Linked DNA regions of Homo sapiens: all the other regions are linked to region 1. Evidence: fine-mapped expression QTL. A gene starts in region 1. Each other region holds a variant in brackets. All regions are shown on one strand. Distances are from middle to middle. Region 1 holds the start of MYO18A (myosin XVIIIA). Region 2 overlaps MYO18A (myosin XVIIIA). Region 3 overlaps MYO18A (myosin XVIIIA). Region 4 overlaps MYO18A (myosin XVIIIA).

The links. PIP is the estimated chance that this variant, and not a neighbour inherited with it, causes the effect.
Region 2: its variant is the best candidate, but not a certain one, in a credible set for the expression of MYO18A in whole blood (TOPMed, PIP 0.70).
Region 3: its variant is the best candidate, but not a certain one, in a credible set for the expression of MYO18A in whole blood (TOPMed, PIP 0.87).
Region 4: its variant is the best candidate, but not a certain one, in a credible set for the expression of MYO18A in Th17 cells (Schmiedel 2018, PIP 0.61).

The regions. Positions count from the first base shown.
Region 1 is chr17:29,177,765-29,182,964 of GRCh38, reverse strand. It overlaps MYO18A (myosin XVIIIA), which reads left to right and starts at 2,567. Exons shown (of 42, transcript NM_078471.4): 1 at 2,567-2,652. RefSeq lists silencers at 2,488-2,708, 2,674-2,723, 2,844-2,893.
Region 2 is chr17:29,088,814-29,094,013 of GRCh38, reverse strand. MYO18A (myosin XVIIIA) reads left to right here. Exons shown (of 42, transcript NM_078471.4): 31 at 1-34; 32 at 587-691; 33 at 1,013-1,159; 34 at 1,558-1,671; 35 at 3,088-3,204; 36 at 3,399-3,482; 37 at 3,916-4,053. Among named protein-coding and RNA genes, the nearest start is that of PIPOX, 48 kb to the right of the region's middle. The variant C/G (reference allele first, on the strand shown) is at 2,871.
Region 3 is chr17:29,130,632-29,135,831 of GRCh38, reverse strand. The region is part of intron 2 of MYO18A (myosin XVIIIA); the gene reads left to right. Among named protein-coding and RNA genes, the nearest start is that of MYO18A, 47 kb to the left of the region's middle. RefSeq lists an enhancer at 2,447-2,741. The variant C/G (reference allele first, on the strand shown) is at 1,989.
Region 4 is chr17:29,104,944-29,110,143 of GRCh38, reverse strand. It overlaps MYO18A (myosin XVIIIA), which reads left to right. Exons shown (of 42, transcript NM_078471.4): 19 at 43-286; 20 at 2,955-3,064. Among named protein-coding and RNA genes, the nearest start is that of PIPOX, 64 kb to the right of the region's middle. RefSeq lists an enhancer at 983-1,565. The variant TTA/A (reference allele first, on the strand shown) is at 2,539.

The sequences.
Region 1 (5,200 bases):
GCCACCGCACCTGGCTTTAATTTGCTATTCTCTAATGATATACAGTGTTGAATATCTTTTCTTTTGCTTACTGCTATCTGTATATCTTCTTTGGTAAGGTGTCTGATCAGGTTTTTTGCCCATTTCTAAATTGGGTGGTTCATTTTCTTATTGTTGAGTTTTTAAAACTCTGCGTATTTTGGATAACAATCCTTTATCAGATGTCTTTTGCATATATTTTATCCCAGTTGTGGCTTGTCTTCTCATTCTCTTGACAGTCTTTTGCAGAGCAGACATTTTTAATTTTAATGAAGCCCAGCTTATCAGCTCTTTCTTTTATGGTGCCTTTGGTGTTGTATCTAAAGAGTCATTGTGATACTCAAGGTCATCTAGGTTTTCTCCTATGTTATCCTCTAGGAGACAGTTTTATAGTTTTGTGTTTTACATTTAGGTATATAATCTATTCTGAGTTAATTTTTGTGAAGGGTATAAAGTCTGTGTCTAGACCCCCCCCTTTTTTTTTTTTTGCATGTGGATGTCCAGTTTGTTGAAAAGCCCCATGTGTTGAAAAGACTAAGCTTATATAATTTTCAAAACAAATTTTGAGGGAGGGAGTCACTGTTATTATCCCAATTTTTTGGATGAGCAAAGTGAAGCACAGAGAGGTGATTTATAAAAAATCACCCAGAGTAACACAGCTAGTACTTTACAGAACTGAGATTTTGAATCCAGGCAATCCAGCTCCAGAGTCCATGCACTCAACCCCTATCTATAATAATAATGTCTCCCTCATAGGTTCATTGTGAGGAGTAGAGATAGTGTCTAGTATATAATAGGTACTCAGGAAACACTAATGATAGTCGTTGTCCTACTTAGCCTGCAAGGTTCCGCTCAAATGTCATGTTTTTGGGGTTTTTTTTTTTTCTTTTTTGGAGACAGAGTCTTGCTCTGTCGCCCAGGCTGAAGTACAGTGGTGTAATCTCCGCTCACTGCAACCTCTGCTCCCCAGGTTCAAGAGATTCTCCTGCCTCAGCCTCCCAAGTAGCTGGGATTATAGACATGCACTACCACGCCTGGTTAATTTTTTGTATTTGTAGTAGTGATGGGGTTTCGCCATGTTGGCCAGGCTGGTCTTGAACGCTGGCCTCAAGTGATCTGCCCACCTCAGCCTCCCAAAGTGCTGGGATTACAGGCATAAGCCACCATGCCTGGCCTCAAATGTCATGTTTTTGAAGCTGCTCTTCTCACTCCTCAAGCCAAATAAGCCTCCCATCATAGCACCTATCTCATCATCCAAGTAATGCCAGCATGGTGAACCCTACTACTGTCACAGCTCAGGTCTACCTGTTCCCCATGTGATTTCCCTGGAGATATGCCATGTCTGATCTCCTTCTGTGTCACCCCAAGTGCCTGGGGCTGCACTTGGCACTTAGCAGGCAGTTTGTTAAATTGAATTTGAGTTGCATGTTATTCCAAAATGTGTATCCCGCCTGGGTCTATTCCTCAGGAACTCCCTAACTCTTACTCAACTCTCTGCTTTCTGAGCCTCCTTGCTCCAGCCTTCCCTGGTCTGTCAGGTTGGGCTGCCCTTGCCTGGAGAAGTTCCTGTTTGGGCTGTCTAGGGAGGTAGCAGCATTTGTCTGCTACACCCTTCTTCCTGCACCACCCCACTCAGTTTCTTCCACATTCTGGCACACCCCACTCCAGCATGGACACTGCCCAGGGAAGTGTCCCCATTTCTTTCTTTCTCCAAACTCTAGACATAGCACCTATCTTGGAGGCCTGGTATCTGGATGTCCCTTGGCCTCTCCCAGGAAGTATAAACTGTCTTCTTGGTGGGTACAGCAGCTCACTTGATATTTACAGCACACAGTGGACCCAGGGACAGACTGCATTCCAAAGAGCTTCTGAAAGTGTTAATCTTGGCATTGGTGAACTCCTTTAGGGAGTGAGTGGCACTTACAGCCATGGCTCCCGGGCCCTGGTACGCCTCTTGATCCACTCCATTTTGAGGCAGGGCTGTATCAGACCAAGCTATTGGGAGTCTGTTTTTACCTTGGGGAGTGCATTCTGGCAGTGCCATCTCGGACATGGCAGGCAGTACCTGGTCTGGACTGAGCCTGGGGCACCATCCAGCAGGGCCCTGTGTGTGCCTCTGCAGAGCCACCTTGGGAGGAGGCGGCCAGTAAGACTTAATTGCTTCCTTTAGACAGCACTACCTTGAACACAGCCTGCAGAGTTCGGTGCCTGCCTTGGACAGCCCCTCTTCTATACGTTCATCATGACCCTGGTGCCTGTCCTAGGCAGTGCCACTCAGCCCCTTTCGGACCCTTTTCGGACAGCCTCCAGTGCCCAGTGCAGACAGAAACTCCAGGCAGGGCCTCTCTCAGACACAGCGAGAGGGGCTTCGGAGTCCACAGCGGACGGAGGCTGCCAGGGCAGCGCCCGGCCCGCCTGGCCCACGTCTGGCGGCGCGCACTGGCGCTGCCAGGCAGGCCGGGCGTTTATCCCCACAGCCGCCAGCAGGGAGCTCCCTTTCGGCTCGGCCTGCGCGGTCGCTGGGGGCGGCGCTGAGCTGCGCCGCGCTGCGCTCTGCTCCATCCCTGACCGGGCCGAGGCTGCTGGATGCCGCGTCTCCGCTTCTGCTGCCTGCCGGGCGGGCTCCGGTGGCCGGTGAGTGCCGGTCGGCGGCGGCGGCCGCTCGGTGGCGGGCCCGGCTTGGTGGGGCGGCGGGGCGGGCTCCGGCCGGGAGGGAGGGCGGGCGGGCGGCGGGGCCCGCCGGCTCCTCCTCCTCCTCCCCCGTCCCCTGGAAGCAGCGGCCCGGACTCCCGGCTCCCGTCCCTGGCGGCGCCGTGGAGCTCGACGCCCGGGGGTGGGGGCCGATCGGGAGCGGCGGGGAAGGGGGAACCACCGGCCCTTCCAGCCAACCTGGGGGGCGCAGGGAGGCAGGACAGGGTGGCCTTCAGTGTGGGGGGATTTGGGGCTTGGAGGCGCCCAGGTGGCCCGGAGCTGCGGGGTGGGGGCTGCAGCCTCGAGGGTGGGGGGACTTCTCCTGCCCCCGTCCAGGCCCCACGATGGAGCGAGCGAGAGAGCGGGGCGCTGAGGAAGGCAGCGGGGAAGGGGAGCACCTCTACCGACCCTTTTATCCCTCCCAGCGGCCTTCACTCTTTCACTGCCGGGCAGACTGCGGGCTCCTCTCAAAGGAGCAGCTGCTAGACAGCTGGCAAAACAATGGAGACCCCGCTTCCCTGGGCCCCCTCCTCTTGGGACAGAAGATGAGAGGGTGAATGGTGGCAGGCTTTGGGGATTAGGGAGTGCAGGCTGTGCCCTGAGACTGAATGCTCACCTCACCTTTCCCTGCAGAGGGGTGGGGTGCGTGTGGGAAGGTCGGACAAGCTGCCCCAGGCCTCTGGAGAGACCGCCCCGACGCCCCGCCCTGCTAACCTGTCATGCCAGTTGTTTCGCCAATGGGAAGGGGAGGTGGTAGGGGTGGCTGCCCCCTCACCCTGCCCCTTGTTAGTGGGGGTGCGCTCCTTGGTCCCAAACCCGGCCAGGAGTGTGGGTCATGTTCCTGGGTGCGATAAGGCCCGCAGGGACAGGCCAGGCATTGGGGCTTTGTTTTGGGGGTGGAGATGGGGGAGTTGCCCTACTGCAAGGCACATGTGTCTTGCTGATTAGTTGGAAAGGTTGCGGCCAGAATGAGCTAGAGGTGGGGGGTGGGGGAGATGGGGAGGAAGACAGCCAGTTTGTTTTTGAGCGGGTATTCATTTTGCCTGACCACTTTGCCAATGGGGCATGTGTTTGGCGCTGGCCTCATAGTTTGTATTTGTGTGGGGAGGGCTGGGGGAATGCTTCCTGAGAGGGACTGTCCTGGCTAGGGCTTTCATTCCCTCAGATGGCCACCCCGAATTAAAGAATTGGATTCCCTCCCTGCTTCACCCTGCCAATGACTTGGGCTAGTTAGTGTGGGTTCGTCTTGTCTTTTGGAGCCCCTGGCGTGTCTGTGGCCGAGAAGGCCTCATCAGTGCCCCTGTGGCAAGTGAGCTCTGGGAAGTGTGTATGCACTGGGGTGTGCTGGAAGGGAGGGGAGGCCACCTGGGTGATTAAGAGCAAGATCACCTGAGCAGGACGGTGAGTACAGAGCCCATTGAATCAGCCGCCTTTCCCTTGTGCTTTGGAGCCCTTTTCTTGAGCAGGTTGGTGCCCTGTTGTTGTGGCAACAGGCCTGGCCTAATGTTCCCCACCCTTTTTAGTTCAGGGGCTACTTTCTATCTGGAGATATTGAAAGTTGCTCTCCTGAGGTCTCTGGCTTCCTGACAAGCCTCACTGGCTCTTTGTCCATGGCTTCCCACCTCCTCAGCTTCCTCTCTGTTTTTTTGTGATGAAGTCTTTCCAGGAAACATCCTCCTGGTTTCTGGATTTGACATGACGGGTTATATATAGCCTCGGGTGGAGGTGTGCTTGTCCATTTTGGGTTGAGGACATGGGGGTTGTGGCCTCAATTCCAGGAAAACCATGGCTTTGGGGGCAGCTATTGTGTTGAGGGATTAGGGGAATGAGAAGGGTTGTAGGTGGGGGTGGAGGGTGGGCATGGGAGGGGCCACAGGCTGGCGGTCACTTCCTTTGGGAGCTTTGAACTTTGAACAGTTGATGACCTGGTGCCTGGTAGCTCTGAGTGTCTAGTTTGTTTACTCTCTCCTGGCCTGGCCCAGGTGCCAGAGTGTGTGCCTGAGGGCTTCCTCCTGCGCCCCAGACTTTCCTCATGTGGGTTATGCCCTTCCTGACTCCCACCTGGTCTCTCAGCCTCACTCCTGGGCTGTCTGGGTAGCCAGCCAGTTCCCTGGAGGCCCCCTCACTGGCCCTGGTAGTGGCTATTCATTGAGGACTGCATGTGTCTTCAGAAACTGGGCCTGAAAACTCTGGGTCCCCCAGAGGCAGGTACCTAAAGGTGGACTGGGTGGGGCAGAACTGGGGCTCATGTGAAAGGGAGAATCCACCCTGCTGAGGTGGAGCTGGGAGTTGTTGGAACTCAGGAAGCCTTCATCTGGACTTGCTGTGTCACAGGTCTTCAGGGCAGCAGGGCTGTTCTTAATCCTTCAAACCAGAGGTCTCTCCTCAGCCAGATCCTCTCACCTGGGGTGGACGCCACAGGCAGGAGCCAGAGCATCCACGTGAGCTGGGTTTTGTTGGTGGCCTGGGGTCCCAGGCCTGAGTGTGGTGG
Region 2 (5,200 bases), 89 kb after region 1:
GGTGGAGGAGGCCCGGCAGTCGTGTCAGAAGAAGGTAAGGTATCTGAGTACTTACCTGTCCAGCGTAAACACCTGTTCCCATCACCGCTTTAAAGTAAGGGGCTTTCCACCTCCCTACCTCAGCCACATCGTCTTCCATTGTCATTCTGGGCCAGGAAGCGCCTCTCGGGATCCTAGCATTGGCAGGATGTATTGGCTCAGAGTCTGTAGAGAAGCTTGGGCCCCTGAGGAACTATCGCTCCCTGCTTTCTGTGCCAGGGGCAGCCCCCTGTGCCCCTGCTGTGCTGCGCTGCACTGGTGCTGCCTGCAGTCAGCCAGCCTGGCCGGGCAGGTCTCCACCATGCGGCAAGGTCTCTCCTACTCTGTCTTGGCTAGCCACCGCATGTGGCCTGCCATCCCTCCTCACCCTCCCAGGCTGCTTTGAAACCCTAGAAACCTGGAATTTAGGTTCTGACCCCTCCACCAACATCATTGTGCTCAGGCCTGCCCCACTGTTTTCCTGGAGTGGGGAACCCAGAATGGAAGGGGCCTGCTTCGCACCAGGCACTAAAGGGACGGACGGGTCTCTGTCCCCATGGTACTCCAGTTAAAACAGATGGAGGTGCAGCTAGAGGAAGAGTATGAGGACAAGCAGAAGGTTCTGCGAGAGAAGCGGGAGCTGGAGGGCAAGCTCGCCACCCTCAGCGACCAGGTCAGGGGATGCTCCACCCACCAAGCCTGGCCGGCTCCCTGCCCATGCGGCCTGAGGAGTGGGGATCCTAGGGATGGGGAGCCACGAACAGAGCTGTCGGGGGTGGGGGTGCTGCAAAGAGCCCATCGTCATCCCTTGTGGGATGGGGGCATCACCATACATTGGCACACCCAGCCCTTTATCGCTGGTTGGCATGACCCTGGCTCTTCCAGCATCCTTATGGGGACACTGATAATGAGGACGTGGTGAGGAGGGAGCTTGGGGAAGATAGGAGGAAGCCCTGTGCAGAGCCCAGAACCCCAACTGCTGGTGCCCACCCAGGTGAACCGGCGGGACTTTGAGTCAGAGAAGCGGCTGCGGAAGGACCTGAAGCGCACCAAGGCCCTGCTGGCAGATGCCCAGCTCATGCTGGACCACCTGAAGAACAGTGCTCCCAGCAAGCGAGAGATTGCCCAGCTCAAGAACCAGGTATCCACAGAGAGCACACGGCTGATCCAGGCACAACAGAGCTTACCTTTCCATTCTCTTTCTCTCTCTCGCTCCTCTCAGTGGTTCTTGAGTCCTTGGGAAGGAAAGTGACAGGAAAGAGGGGAGAGCCACGTGTAGCAGCTAGACTCCCCAGGCTCTGCGTGTGCCTTACTGTCTCACCGCCCAGCCTGGGATGGTGTGGATGGGGCCTGGTGCCCACCAGCCATGTCACGGGAGGAGATCCCCACGCGTGCACCACCACACAGCCATGGCCCTGGGGTCTGAAGTGAATGGAGGAGGAGAAGGAGGGCATCCGAGCTCCCTCTTTCCTGTACAGCCCTCCTGCCCCCAAGGAATGGCTGACATCTCTCCCTGGGGCGGGGGTGGTCTGTGTCCAGCTGGAGGAGTCAGAGTTCACCTGTGCGGCAGCCGTGAAAGCACGGAAAGCAATGGAGGTGGAGATCGAAGACCTGCACCTGCAGATTGATGACATCGCCAAAGCCAAGACAGCGGTGAGGGGCCAAGGTGCCCGGGGCAGAGCTCGGGGGGCTGAGGCAGAATAGAGCTGCCTCTGTGGCTCCCTTCACCCTAGACAGGTCCCTCCACGTCAGGACTTGTGACAGGTCCTTTCACGCCAGGACTTGCTGCAGGAAGAGCGGGCCTCCCCTCCTCTGCGTCTCTCCACACTGAGCAGAGGCCTCGGGGAGGAGCGGGCAGAAGAGGGAGCCAGCAAGGGCCCATCTCCCTGTTTAACCACCTGCCTACGGGAGCTTGGCCGCAGGCCCCAACACCATAAATAAAGGCAGCTAATGTGGCTGAGGGATGTAAACAGGTGCCTAGAGATTAGCAGAAGCACAGATAAGAGGACAGGATGGCTTGGCTTCCTTCCCCTTCCCCCTGCCCAGCCCACTGACAAGCCCAAGCGGCAGCTAATTAGAGCTCTTATTTAATGCCTCCCTTTTAATTTCCCACCTCTCCCACGGCCCATCCATCGGCAGAGAATTCATTACTGGGATGCGGCCAGTACAGGCAGCTCCTTGAGCATCACTGGTCCTGGGACCCACCCCAGTGGGCAGGCCCCTTGGGCAGGGAATGGGGCAGGGGAGGAGGCTGGGCTGGGCTGGTGGCTTCATGGCCCCTGAGCTAGTCACCTAGCTGCTGAGAGATGCCAATCTCACGGGCTTGATTTATCCCCATGACATTTGTGCTCCTCAGCAGTTCTCAGGTGAGTAATTCAAATTCCTTAATTGTGTTAAAAAAGGTTGTTATAAAATTACCATTTTATTTAAATCTGAGTTAATAAATTTCTTGGCGGAGGCTTCCCCAGCTCCCCACAGCCCAGTAACAAGATGGATGGGGCAGAGAAGGAGCCAACACAGTCATTTTGGTTTGGAATTACAGGCTAATAGATTCATTCATTTCCTGAAGCTGCTGTTGGATCTCTCTTCCCCTCCCCCAAGGAGGGGACTGGCTGTCGGGGCTGGATGCCCAGGGAGTGGGCAGTCCCAGGGAAAATGAGAGTCTAAGCCAGGAGACCTTCGCAGACTTGAGGGGTCCTTCCCTGGGGCCTGAAGGGGGCAGAGTGCACGCAGGCCAGGGCCTGGACTGATAGTGCCAGGATGATGGGTCATTTGTTCTGGGCAGACCTTTTCTGCCTTCTCATTAGCCTCAAAGGAGCTGCCAGGAAGCAGCTGTCATTCAGCTCAGAGGC[C/G]CAGGGTCTGCCTGTACTGCACACAGCCCTTTCCCTCATCTCCCTGGTCCAGAGCGGGACAGGCAGCTCCTTGAGCATCACTAGTCCTGGGACCCACCCCAGCAGGCAGGCTCAGCCCATTATCATCTTCTCTACAATGCCCCTGCCATTGGAGGCAGCTGGAGCCCACAGGCACACTGGGCCTGAGGCCCTCTGATCTGTCTTTGCCTCTCTCCAGCTGGAGGAGCAGCTGAGCCGCCTTCAGCGTGAGAAGAATGAGATCCAGAACCGGCTGGAGGAAGATCAGGAAGACATGAACGAATTGATGAAGAAGCACAAGGCTGCCGTGGCTCAGGTACCCCTGCCAGGAGTGCCCGTCACACTCTGCACCGTCACCATCCTTGTGGTCCTCCTCATGGGTCCCCCGCACAACCGCTTGTTTTGGGAGGTGATGGAGTGGGAACCTCGGTCCCCTGGTGTTCCAGCTGGGCTGGGCTGGTTGAATGCTTATGGGGGATCCTGCTTCTGATGCTCTCATTCCTTTCCCAGGCTTCCCGGGACCTGGCTCAGATAAATGATCTCCAAGCTCAGCTAGAAGAAGCCAACAAAGAGAAGCAGGAGCTGCAGGAGAAGGTGAGGACCAGGGGCTCCCTCAGGAGAGAGAGAGTGCCAGGGTCACTAGGTGTGGGAGGAACCCCCAAGTTCACAGTTTAGAAGGCGCTTTTCTCTGCCATCAGTAATCCACAGAGCAGCGTAAATGAGGAGCAAGAGCTAGGCTTGGAGCCATGTCACCATAACAGACATTTGGGCTTCCCCTGCCTCATTTCCCATCTGTATTCCCTCTCCGATCCTTAGCTTTCTCCTTTCTCTCTGAAGGGCAATCTCTGTGCCAAGCACTGGGGCAGATGGGGGAGGCCTCTGGCCCAGGGCTCCATTCTCTTTCCTCCCAGGTGCATCCCTCCCTCCCCTTGCCTTCTGGTCACTGTGGTGATATTGCCTGCCCCAGACGCAGTCTCCTCCCTTTCTGGGCTCAGTTCTTTCTTCTCTTCCTGTCCCCCACCTCTAGCTACAAGCCCTCCAGAGCCAGGTGGAGTTCCTGGAGCAGTCCATGGTGGACAAGTCCCTGGTGAGCAGGCAGGAAGCTAAGATACGGGAGCTGGAGACACGCCTGGAGTTTGAAAGGACGCAAGTGAAACGGCTGGAGGTGGGTTCACACTTCTCCCGGGCCACACCAAACAGGGCAGAGCTGCCCCAGCGCTGGAGCCGCGCATGCTCAGCAGGGCTGGACAGGCCCCCGGACAGTCCTCAGAGGCCTGTGCCTCACTGCCAGGCCAGCTGACGGGCAGGTGCTTCTCTCCCGCCCTGCCTGGCCTGCTCTCTGGCTACCGTGGAGCCCGCCTGCTTTACATTCTGTTTCCGTGCTTGCTTTCTGCCAAGGGACCAGAGCAGCTTAGCTCTTCGTCTTCATATTTTCCTCCACCACGAGCTCCCCCCGCCTGTTCCCCTCAACCGGTTCTCTGGCAGGGTCATAAATATGCAGCGGATGGTGCCACTTCTGCGCAGGCTGGAATCTGTTCTCTCATCTGCCCTCGCTCTGCTCCTCTCCCCTTCCCTGCTTCATTCCCTTTCTTCCTCACTTCTTCTGCCCTCCTGTCTCTGCTTTTTTTTTTCTCTCTCCCTTTTTCTTGATTATGATCCTATTCTTTCTTCTCCCTTCATTTTTTTTTTTTTTTTTTTTTTTTTTTGAGACAGAGTCTCACTCTGTCGCCAGGCTTGAGTGCAGTGGTACGATCTCGGCTCACTGCAACCTCCACCTCCCGGGTTCAAGCGATTCCCCTGCCTCAGCCTCCCGAGTAGATGGGACTACAGGCACGTGCTTTTTTTAAATTGTATTTTAGTAGAGAGGGGGTTTCACCATGTTGGCCAGGATGGTCTTGATCTCCTGACCTCATGATCTGCCCGCCTCGGCCTCCCAAAGTGCTGGGATTACAGGCATGAAATATTTTATATTTTTTCCTCTCTCCAATCTTATTTCTCTTTCTTACCCTCTTCCCATCCCATTCTCCTCTCCCTTTATTATAAGGTTCATTCTCTCTTCTTCCCCTTTTTTTTTTTTTTTGAGATAGGGTCTCGCTCTGTTGCCCAGGCTGTAGTGCAGTGACGCAATCATGGCTCACTGTAGCCTTGACCTCCTGGGCTCAAGCAATCCTCCCATCCTCCTGCCTCAGCCTCCTGTGTAGCTGGGACCACAGGCATGTGCCACCATGCCTGGCTAATTTTTGTATTTTTTGCAGAGACAGGGTTTTGCCTTGTTGCTCAGACTGGTCTTGAACTTCTGGGCTCAAGCAATC
Region 3 (5,200 bases), 47 kb after region 1:
CAGTTCCAGGATAACTTGCTCTTGATCCTAAACAAATTCAGTGATAAGGGAGAGAGGAAAACTGTCTAGGCAATTCTGCATAAAAGCCACAGAGAGAATTTCCTCTGGGGAGAGCCCCACATCTGTGTTCAGAGTGAAGCTCATAGGAACAGCTGATGCAGAGGAACAGGCCTGGGTGGAAATGGCCCGGTGTCCTCACAGCCTGGGCCAGATGGGACCTCTATAGACAAGTAGGAAAACTTGAACAAGAGATCAAAGATCAAACGAGTTAAAATTACACCAACAGACAAACTTAAAGTCTCTAGCACATTAACTGAATAATAAAACAGAAGTCAACAAAGCAAAATAGAAATAATTAATTGAAAACAAAACATTTCCTAATTTTTAACTATTATTCATGATAAGCAGTTTTAAGAATGAACCAGTTCTTGGCCGGGCGCGGTGGCTCACCTCTGTAATCCCAGCACTTTGGGAGGCCAAGGCGGGTGGATCACGAGGTCAGGAGATGAAGACCATCCTGGCTCACACGGTGAAACCCTGCCTCTACTAAAAAAATACAAAAAATTAGCTGGGCATGGTGGTGGACACCTGTAGTCCCAGCTACTCGGGAGGCTGAGGCAGGAGAATGGCGTGAACCCGGGAGGCGGAGGTTGCAGTGAGGCAAGATTGCACCACTGTACTCCAGCCTGGGTGATAGAGTGAGATGAGACTCTGTCTCAATTAAAAAAAAAAAAAGAACCAGTTATTAAACTCCACTGAAGTGCCCTGATTCTTTGGATGCAGCCTCTCCCTGGACTGAGGCAGATTCTGACTTGATTTTTCAAGCGGCCCAGCTCTGGTTTCTAATCCATAGATGGACAGTTTTGCAGTTCTCCGGGCCTCTTGCCCCACGTAATTGTGTGTTACAGCTGGAAGGCAAAGTCGCTGGGGTCCTGAGGCAGATTCCTCAATTCCTCTCCTAGGTCACAGGCCTGCAACTTTGGTTTACTGTATTAAGGGTTTGAGTGTTGGCTGGGCGTGGTGGCTCACACCTGTAATCCCAGCGCTTTGGGAAGCTGAGGCAGGTGGGTCACCTGAGGTCAGGAGTTCGAGACCAGCCTGACTAACATGGAGAAACCCCGTCTCTACTAAAAATACAGAAATTAGCCGGGCGTGGTAGCGGGCGCCTGTAATCCCAGCTACCTGGGAGGCTGAGGCAGGAGAATCGCTTGAGTCCGGGAGGTGGAGGTTGCAGTGAGCCGAGATCACGCCATTGTACTCCAGCCTGGGCAACAAGAGTGAAACTCCGACTCAATAAATAAATAAATAAATAGAGTTTGAGTGCCTCTCCCCACGTAGACTCCTAAGGTGCCAGACATGGAGAGGCCTTGAGCCATTGTCTAGACTAGCCCCTAATTCTACAGAGAGGCCCAAAGAGGCGAAGTGGCTTATTCAAAGCACACAGCTTCTGGCCGGGCACGTCAGCTCACACCTGTAATCCCAGCACTTTAGGACGCCAAGGCGGGTGGATCACCTGAGGTCAAGAGTTCGAGACTAGTCTGGCCAACATGGTGAACCCCCATCTCTACTAAAAAGTACAAAAATTAGCTGGGCGTGTTGGTGCCGGGGAGGCTGAGGCAGGAGAATCACTTGAACCCGGGAGGCAGAGGCTGCAGTGAGCCGAGATGGCACCATTGCACTTCAGCCTGGCCTACAGAGTGAGACTGCATCTCAAAAAATAAAAATAAAAAAATAAAAACAATGCACACAGCTTCCAAGGGTAGGGAGTGCTATGTTCTGTGCCTACTTTCCTTCATTTTCCTTTAATATTTTATTCCTTACTCCAATGCCCTCTTGAGTTTTGTAATCCTTCCTCCTCCACTCCATCCCTCCTTTCCCCTTGTTGCCCACAGTGTTTATCCTGGCAGGTTCTGGCCTTTGGGAAGACTCAGAGACACTGAGAGACCCTGCCCCCCATTTCTTCTCTGACCCAGGGCACAGGTTACCTT[C/G]AGCGCCATGGCCTTTTCATCAAGGTTCGCCTTCTGGGAGCAAAAGGAAAGTTGGATTTTAAAATCTTTATGTTTTTCCTGTGTGCTTGGCATGTTGTATCTGCAGGCAGGAGACTGGCTTGTGGGAGAGGGAGCTTTGGAAGCTAGAGATGGATTGGGGCATGTGTGTATAATTGGGGGTGGCAGGGAGAATGACGGGGGCTGGTGAACTCCCTATTCTGGCTGGATGGGCTCCTGCACTGAGTCATGCTTCTCCCCTAAGCCCCACCTCTGGTAAGGTGAGCTGCCTTTTGTCCTGCTGGTGTCCCTCTGGGTTAACCCCTCCACACCCTTCCCACCACCCTGCTGCCTTGACTCACCCCTGGAACGTGGGCTGCTGTGGAGGGACCGCTGGAACTGGGTCTCCCTGATCCTGGGGGCTGCAGTGGGTTAGGAGGACAAGGGGCCAAGGGTGGGGAGTCAGGCCAGTTGGCCACCTGGGTCCAGAGGGTGATTCAGGCCACAGACTTGGGACTGCCTGTGTGTGTGCCTTTATGCGTGTGCATAGTCCCCAGCTGGGCAGTGACCTACAACAGCCAGAGCCCTTCTGATGGGGGAGGGAGGAGTGAGTCAGCCTGATGCTAAATCCAGAGCTGAGCTCAGAGCTGGGCCCAGTGTTTCAGACACTTGGGGGGCACCCAGTGTTTTCCCCAATGCCACACCTTGGGCCAGACATTTGGGGTCCCAAACTTGAGCCACTGGAGGGAGGACAGATTTGGAGCTGGTGAAGAACACAGAGTGGACTTGGAATCTGGGCCACCCCGGCACCCAAGTTAACAGCACTGCGTGCAGTAATGAGTGTGTCTGTGTGGTTTGCGAACACTTGTCCTCCCACTAACCTGTGTGCCCCAGAACTACTGCATGGTGTGATCCCTGGGGCAGCAAGGGGGAGAGTGATGGCTTGGTGGGGGGCAGCAGGCACAGACCTAGACCCTGCCACTCTTCCTCCCTCTGTCCACCAGTCCCTCCCTTCCCTTTCTCTGCTCCGATTCCAATTCTTAAAGAAGTAGGCTCCACTCTGGTGAATATTTGCCATTTCCCCTCGTCCTTGGCATTGTGAGCTAACTATGAAGATTGAGCCCGTTGCAGATAGCTCTGTGGACAAGATGCAGCTTTAAAACTGCAGCAGCCATCACGCCAGCCAGTGCCCCTGGCACTGCTAATTTGAGCTCAAAATTAGCCACAGACCCTGGTTAAAATTGGAGAGTCCCCCCAAGTGGATCATGTAAATGATTCTGGATGTTTCTAAAGATTTTTTCCCTTAGGAATCAAGGACTTCTTGCCATGCTCCTACCCACATTGTGCTGGGAAGGAGAGGCACGCTGAGGAGGAGGTAGGGTTGGTAACAGGGCTGTCTTTTTCCTGTAGTCCTAGGTGACGCGGGAAAGAGGAGAAATTAAATCCATAGGACTGCCTGAGCTTTTGGAGGGAGAGATACTGGTGAGGGGAAAGGAGAAGACTTTTTAAAACTTGAGGCCTGGCCTCTCTGAATCTGTTGTGAGCCAGTTTCTGAACTGAAAGAACCTTCAGAGCTTCCACATCATCTGCCCTTTTTCCAGATGTGTGATGGTATCTGCTGTTTCCACGACTCCACTCCTCCCCTCTGACTCAGGCCAGCCAGCTCCTGGGCTCCAGCACAAACCCCTGGCCCCAGTGTCCAGAGCTTAGGCATCTTTCCTTCCTCCATACCCCGCCCCTAACTTCAGGGTTCCCTCCCTCGGCTGCGTGGTTGGCAGTTTTGTGGGTCTGAGGTTGAGAAAATATCTGGCCTCCTGAATCTCCGCCTCTGCCCCACTCCCTGCCTCCAGCAAGATCTCAGCTGAGCTGGGGGAGTTGTGCAGGATCAAGAAGTAAGCCAGAGCCAGCCCAGTAGGGGCCAACCTTCACTCTACTCTAAAAGCTGCTGGCCCACAGGTACCCACACTGGGTTACTTTTACCTCCTCAGTCACTAGATCTGGGGCTTTTTGTTCAAACCACTTCTTGCCTGAGCTAGGGATGACTCTTGTAGTTTGGATGAGTTAAATTAGCTGGATCTTCCCATCTGCCACGTAACCAAAGCCACGATGGCACTGTGGGTGGACCTCTTTAGACAGCCCCCAAAGTGGGCAAAGTGGCTGGTTGCTGAGGGCAAGGGTACTTGGCTTTTTCCCCCACAGACTCTTCATTCTTGAAGTCATCACTGAACAGTTCTGATTCTAGGATAGGATAGCTCTTGCCCAGGTCCCCTAGCCCCGGTATTCCTAAAGACTCAGGAGCTCCACCTCAGGGTGAGGGAGGCCCCTTGAATGTTCTCTCCCTGTGCTTTTAGTGCTGGGTCTCCCAGCCTTGACCTGCCAGTGACTTCTTCATCTGCTCCCTCAGGTTAAAGAGGAGGACAAAACTCTGCCAAAGCCTGGCTCTCCTGGCAAGGAGGAAGGGGCTGTAAGTGCATCCTTGAGTTCTCCGAGGCATGCGTGTGTGTGTGCGGGCATGTGTGTGTGCATGCGTGCATGTGTGTGTGCGTGTGTGTGTTTGCCCCTGCACCCACTAGCCCTGGACTAGCCTGTGAGACAGCTCCATGGAGTAGGTGGGGATTGCAGGGGGCCCCTTCCTGTGTGGCTCAGCTGAAGAGAATTCTAGTAAAGGGGAAGAAAGTACGGTGTATGTGATGCCAGCTTCAGGTGTGTGAAGGAGATGGCCAAGGTGCTTTGGGGACCTCCCCTAACCTCCTCCCCAATCCCCTTAAGTTGCCTCCCTTTGGTTCTGGTTTCCTGAACCCTTTGGGCCTGGAGAGGCTTGGGTGGGCAAACTCTTAGGTCAGGGAGCGTCGAATGAGAGCTCAGCTGTTGGGATTCTTCAGCCTGCTCTGGGTGGCACAAGGCAAAGGCATGGAGGGACTTCACTGTAGTCGCTGCTGTCTCTTCCAAGACCCTGTCAGCTGCTTGGTGCAGGTGACCTGGAGGCAGGCTCCAGCTACTCACTGCCTCCAGCCCCAGCGCATTGGGATAGAGACCCTGAATAAACCTGGACTCTCCTAAGGCAAGAATAGCCTTAGGTTTCTGAATAGCCAAGTCCAAAGATGTGTAGTTAGGAGAGGGCAGCTGGTAGCACAGGGGGCAGGAGTGCCCAGGGCTCTGGGGCAGAGCTGGATCACAACACATATTCTTACTTCATTACCCCAGATGGTGCCTGT
Region 4 (5,200 bases), 73 kb after region 1:
GGCCATCAGAGCCCACTGAGGGCAGTCTCTTCCCCTCGGCAGGACGCCCTCATCGACACCATCAAGAAGTCAAAGCTGCATTTTGTGCACTGCTTCCTGCCTGTAGCTGAGGGCTGGGCTGGGGAGCCCCGTTCCGCCTCCTCCCGCCGAGTCAGCAGCAGCAGTGAGCTGGACCTGCCCTCGGGAGACCACTGCGAGGCTGGGCTCCTGCAGCTCGACGTGCCCCTGCTCCGCACCCAGCTCCGCGGCTCCCGCCTGCTCGATGCCATGCGCATGTACCGCCAAGGTGGGGCCTCCTTTCCTCTCCACTCTGGGCTCTCTTTTCCAGAGCTGGCCCTGCCCGGCCCCACCTCCCACCTGCGACCCGTGGGCTGCAGTGGGGCTGCTCCTGTCTTTCCTCACGATCCTTTCTGCTCTGGTCTCTCCTCATCTCTCCCAGCCCACAGCCCCTTTGTCCATTTCCTTCCATCCTGCAGAGTCCCCGCCTCCTCCTCTCCCTTCCATATTCAGTTCTCTTTGTCCCCCTCCCTTCCTAGCTCCACCCTGCACCTTGTCATTTGTCCACAGCTCCCTTTCTTCCCACGTCCCTAGTTTGGACAGTTCAGCTTTGCCCACAGCAGCAAACCCAGTGCCCTTTCGGAGCCATCTGCCCAGTGAGAAATGAGGTGCTAAATCTTTCTGAAGTACTTAAAATTCCCAAGAAAGGTCAGACAGACCCTTTTTTATGGACCCATCTAAAGGAGGCGACAGACAGGATGATAGTATTAGTGGTTACTTAGAGTCCTTAGAAGCTGTTATCGGTGGCTGGGGGCCGGGATAGCACACTGGTATCATTCCAGATGAGGAGACTGAGGCTCAGAGAGGTTAAGTAGCTTGCCCAAGGTCACACAGCTCCTGAGTGGCAGAGTGGGATTTGACCAGGCAGGCTGGCTGTAGAGTCATGTCTCATGTCTCTCAAGTAGGGTGGGTTTTTTTTGTTTTTTTTTTGTTTTTTGCCTGAGAAGTTATGAGTTGCTGGGTTTCTGCTGTTTTTCTCCTTCACTAGAAGAGCAGGTAGGGTCCCACCCACCCACAGCCAGGTCCCCTTCAGGCATTCCCATGGGCACTAAAACTTCCTTAGCAGCCCAAGCCAGGAAACAGGCTCCCTGCCCTGCTCTAAATAAATCATCGATCTGTCCCCACGTCTTGATATGGAGTTGGTGTTTATTATTTCAAAACCAGATTGTTACCGCTCTGAACCAAAATCAATGTGCGTTACTCAAACAAGCAGATCGATGAGGCCAGCAGCGGCAGGCCCCCCTTCCCTCACCCGGCCCCCAGCCACCGCACTATAGCACTGATGATTAATTAAGATGCCAGGCGTCCAGACCTGCTATCCTGGCCCATCAATTTAATTGCAATTCAGATACAATCAATAGCTCACTTTGTCTTGGCCCCTCAGCAGCCCCCACCTCCTGTTTCAATTATCAGGCACATGCATCAGCCTCACCTCCCAGCTGGAGGGTTTCCCAGAGCCAGCTAGCCCGTCATTGCTGTGGAGCATGCCCTTGGCTAGCTGTCAGGAGTCCAGGTTTGGAAGCCAGTTCTGCCCCCAGCAGCAGCCTTTGTGACCTTGAGCAAGACAGTCGCTCCTCCCAGGCCTCCGTTTCTGTGTCTGAAAGATGAGTTGGATCTGGCTTAAGATCCCTTTCTGGTTTGAAATTCTGTGATTTTGTGGGAGTGGAGTTCGTGGCCCTCCACCCTGGGCTCTGGTAAGATCAGGGTGACTTGGGGTCACTTCCTGCTAGCCACTGCTCTGACCCACTTTGCTCCAAGCCAAAAGTCAGGTCACACCTCCCCTGACCTGAAGCCCAGACACTCTTCAGGGAAAGAGAATCTACAAGTCTTTTTGGTCACCTGGCCTAGGACTCAAGGTCAGGGTGAGGCAAGGAGGGCAGCCTTTCTCATGTCCTGCTCTAGTGGACAGAGGGGGAAAAGGAGTGTTTATTAAATGCCAACCAAGTGAGTCACACTGTGCTTTTTACCTGGTTTCTCATTTAATCTCCATGACTACCATTCGAGATAAGTGCGAGGGCCGCTGTTTAAAGGTGAAGAAACTGAGGCTCAGAAAGGTTGAGTGACTGGCCCAAGGTCACATGATCCTAAGAGGCAGGGCCAGGAATCCAGCACCTAGCCAATGCGCGATTCCTCTCAGCTACTCTCTGGTGCCTTTTTTTTTTTTTTTTTTTGAGACACAGTCTTGCTCTGTCTCCCAGGCTGGAGTGCAGTGGTGTGATCTTGGCTCACTGCAGCCTCTGCCTCCTGAGTTCAAGCGATTCTTCTGCCTCGGCCTCCTGAGTAGCTGGGACTACAGGCATGCACCACCATACCCGGCTTACTTTTTTGTACTTTTGGTAGAGACAGTTTTACCATGCTGGCCAGGCTTGTCTAAACTCCTGGCCTCAAGTGATCCTCCCACCTTGGCCTCCCAAAGTGATAGGATTACAGGCGTGAGCCACCACGCCTGGCCTGGTGTCTTTTTTTTTTTTTTTTTTTTTT[TTA/A]AGACCATAAGACATTATTTTGTCTGGGTTATCACTGAGGCATAGACTTGGAGGGCTGGAAAGCATCTTGGGGATTGGGATGTAGCCTTCCTCCCAGCTGGTCAGCTACCCCACAACCCCCCATTTGCATACCTCACTGACTACTAGGAGCTTACTTCTCTCTGAAGGAGGCTGTTCCTTTTTTGGGCCTTCCTATCCCCCTGTGGAGCAGGCCTGATTGTCCTCCTGACCTTCTCTTCCTCTTCCCTGCCTACCCCCTCTCCTTTCTAGGCCTGCCTTCAACCACAGGCTCCCCACCCCCTGCAGTTTCTTCCCTTTTGGTGACTCTCCACTGACTGCCCAGGCACAGTGGCTACTGGGGTGTGCTGGGAGCAGGTGGCGTTGACAGGCCTGGCTCTGGGCTGCTCTCTCTAGGTTACCCTGACCACATGGTGTTTTCCGAGTTCCGCCGCCGCTTTGATGTCCTGGCCCCGCACCTGACCAAGAAACACGGGCGTAACTACATCGTGGTGGATGAAAGGCGGGTAGGTCCAGGTCCCCAGACCGCTCTCCCTCTGCCCAGGCCCCTCAAGCAGCTGCCCTTTCCAGACTCATCTGCCTTCCCTTCCCTGGAGACAGCTCATCTGGCCCTGCTCAGGCTCCCAGTTTTGGAAGCACCCAGCTGTGTCCTGGGGCCCAGACCATAGGAGCTGGAGAAGAGCCACCCCCTCCTTGGAGGCCTGAGCTGGGGGTGTCTGCTTGCTGGTGAGCCAGACAATCATCCAGGAGCGAGCAGGGCCTGGGCGCACTGAGGGTGCATGAGAATTATTAGTGCTTTGGGAGCCCCACCGATGGCACCTGGGCCCCCATGTCAGGGATTGGTTCCTGAAGCAGGAAGCTGTCCAGGGCTGGGCGAACATTCCTCCTAGAAGGAAGGTGGATATGGTGAGACCTCCGTGGTGCCAGGTGAACATAGGCTGCCGGGCCATTTGCCGGCCCTGGTTGGTGAACTTGTGGCTGCGGAAGGGGTGTCCCTGCCCGTCTGGGCTATCACCTTGAGCCCCAGAGGCAGCCCCTTAGACAGTCACAGGGCTCCCAGAGCAGAGGACCCCTCCTTTACTGTGCTCGGGCCTCAGGCATCCAGCCTGATTCTGAAAGCACCTCAGACCTTAGGATGGCTTCCCTAAATGGAGAGGATGCTGCAGAATGGGGCAGAAAGCCCACAGAGTGCCCAGCCTGCCTCTGTGTGTGCCCCCCTGCCCCTCCACCCCTGCCTTAAAGACCTGAATTCATGGAGGGGGCTCGGAAGAACTTCCCTCCATCCTTTGGCCTGCTGGTGGCCTGGGCAACCTCATGTGGACATAGATGCCCGTCCCACGCCCCCTTCTCACAGGCCCTCAGCCTCCATTCCAGCCTCCCACCTGTGGCTACACCAGTACCTCATCAGCTCTGGAAATGCCCCAGCTCCAAAATCATAAATCCCAGCATGGCCTTCTCTGACCACAGCCTCGTGCCTGCTGGTCCCACTCCTCTCTTCCCCTCAGGACACCCGCTCTCTGGCTCCATCAGAACCTCTCTTTCTGGATCACACTCCATTTCTCTGTGAATTGTCTCCTTTTCCATGGTTCACTCTGCAGTCACTCGGCCTCCCTCACCCTCAGCCCTCCTGAGCCTCCCGCAGCACCTGGCCTGCCCAACTCCCACCGAAGCGCCAGCCTCTGGGTGTCTGCACTCCTTGCTTTGGGCTCCCAAGGGTGGTGGGAGAAAATTATACAACTTTGTGGACTTGACTTCCTACAGGTTCATGGTCTTCAGCCTTTGGTGGGCCCTCAGGGGGACCAGCAAGTCTTCTAGATGTCCCCTCCTTATCTGGCCGTGACTCCAGGCTTCCTGTCTGCTATTGCATTCTCCATCTTTCTTCTCAAATCCTCCCCGCCCCACCTTCCTGGCTCACCTTCCCAGCAGATGCCCAGCCTTCAGATCTCAGGACATCAGGCTCCAGCTTCTTCTGCCTCCTGCAAACCTCTCTTCCCTAGCCTCCTTCTTCCCGTACCCCTTCTGTCTTGGTGGGGAGGGTCCCTCTCATCCAGTCCCTTGATCCTGTGCCTTGGAGTCCATTTCCTTGGGTCTCCCCAGAGACCCATTCCATCAGTGTGAATTCACTTCTCTCTCTTTTTCCTCTGGCATCTCTTTTTCTCCTGGCCCTTTTCTCTCCACGGAGAAACTCCCCACAGACCTGCAGGTTTTGCTCTCTGGAAGGAGCCTCTGTCATCGTCTCCCTGGACTGTGCTCTGCCTCCTGCCTGCCCTGGGCTTTCCTCCTGCTGCCCTCACTGCCCATGGCTGCCTGGTCCCTCTCCCTGATGCCCTGGCACTGGTCTTCTCATCCCTCACGCCCTCCATATTGCCAGAGCCAACCGGCACTTTTCTTTTTTTTTTTTTTTTTTTTTTTTTGAGACAGAGTCTCGTTCTGTCGCCCAAGCTGGAGTGCAGTGGCGCCATCTGAGCTCACTGCAAGCTCCGCCTCCCAGGTTCACACGATTCTCCTGCCTCAGCCTCCCAAGTAGCTGGGACTACAGGCCCATGCCCAGCTAATTTTTTGTATTTTTAGTAGAGATGGGGTTTCACCATGTTAGCCAGGATGGTCTTGATCTCCTGACCTCATGATCCACCCACCTCAGC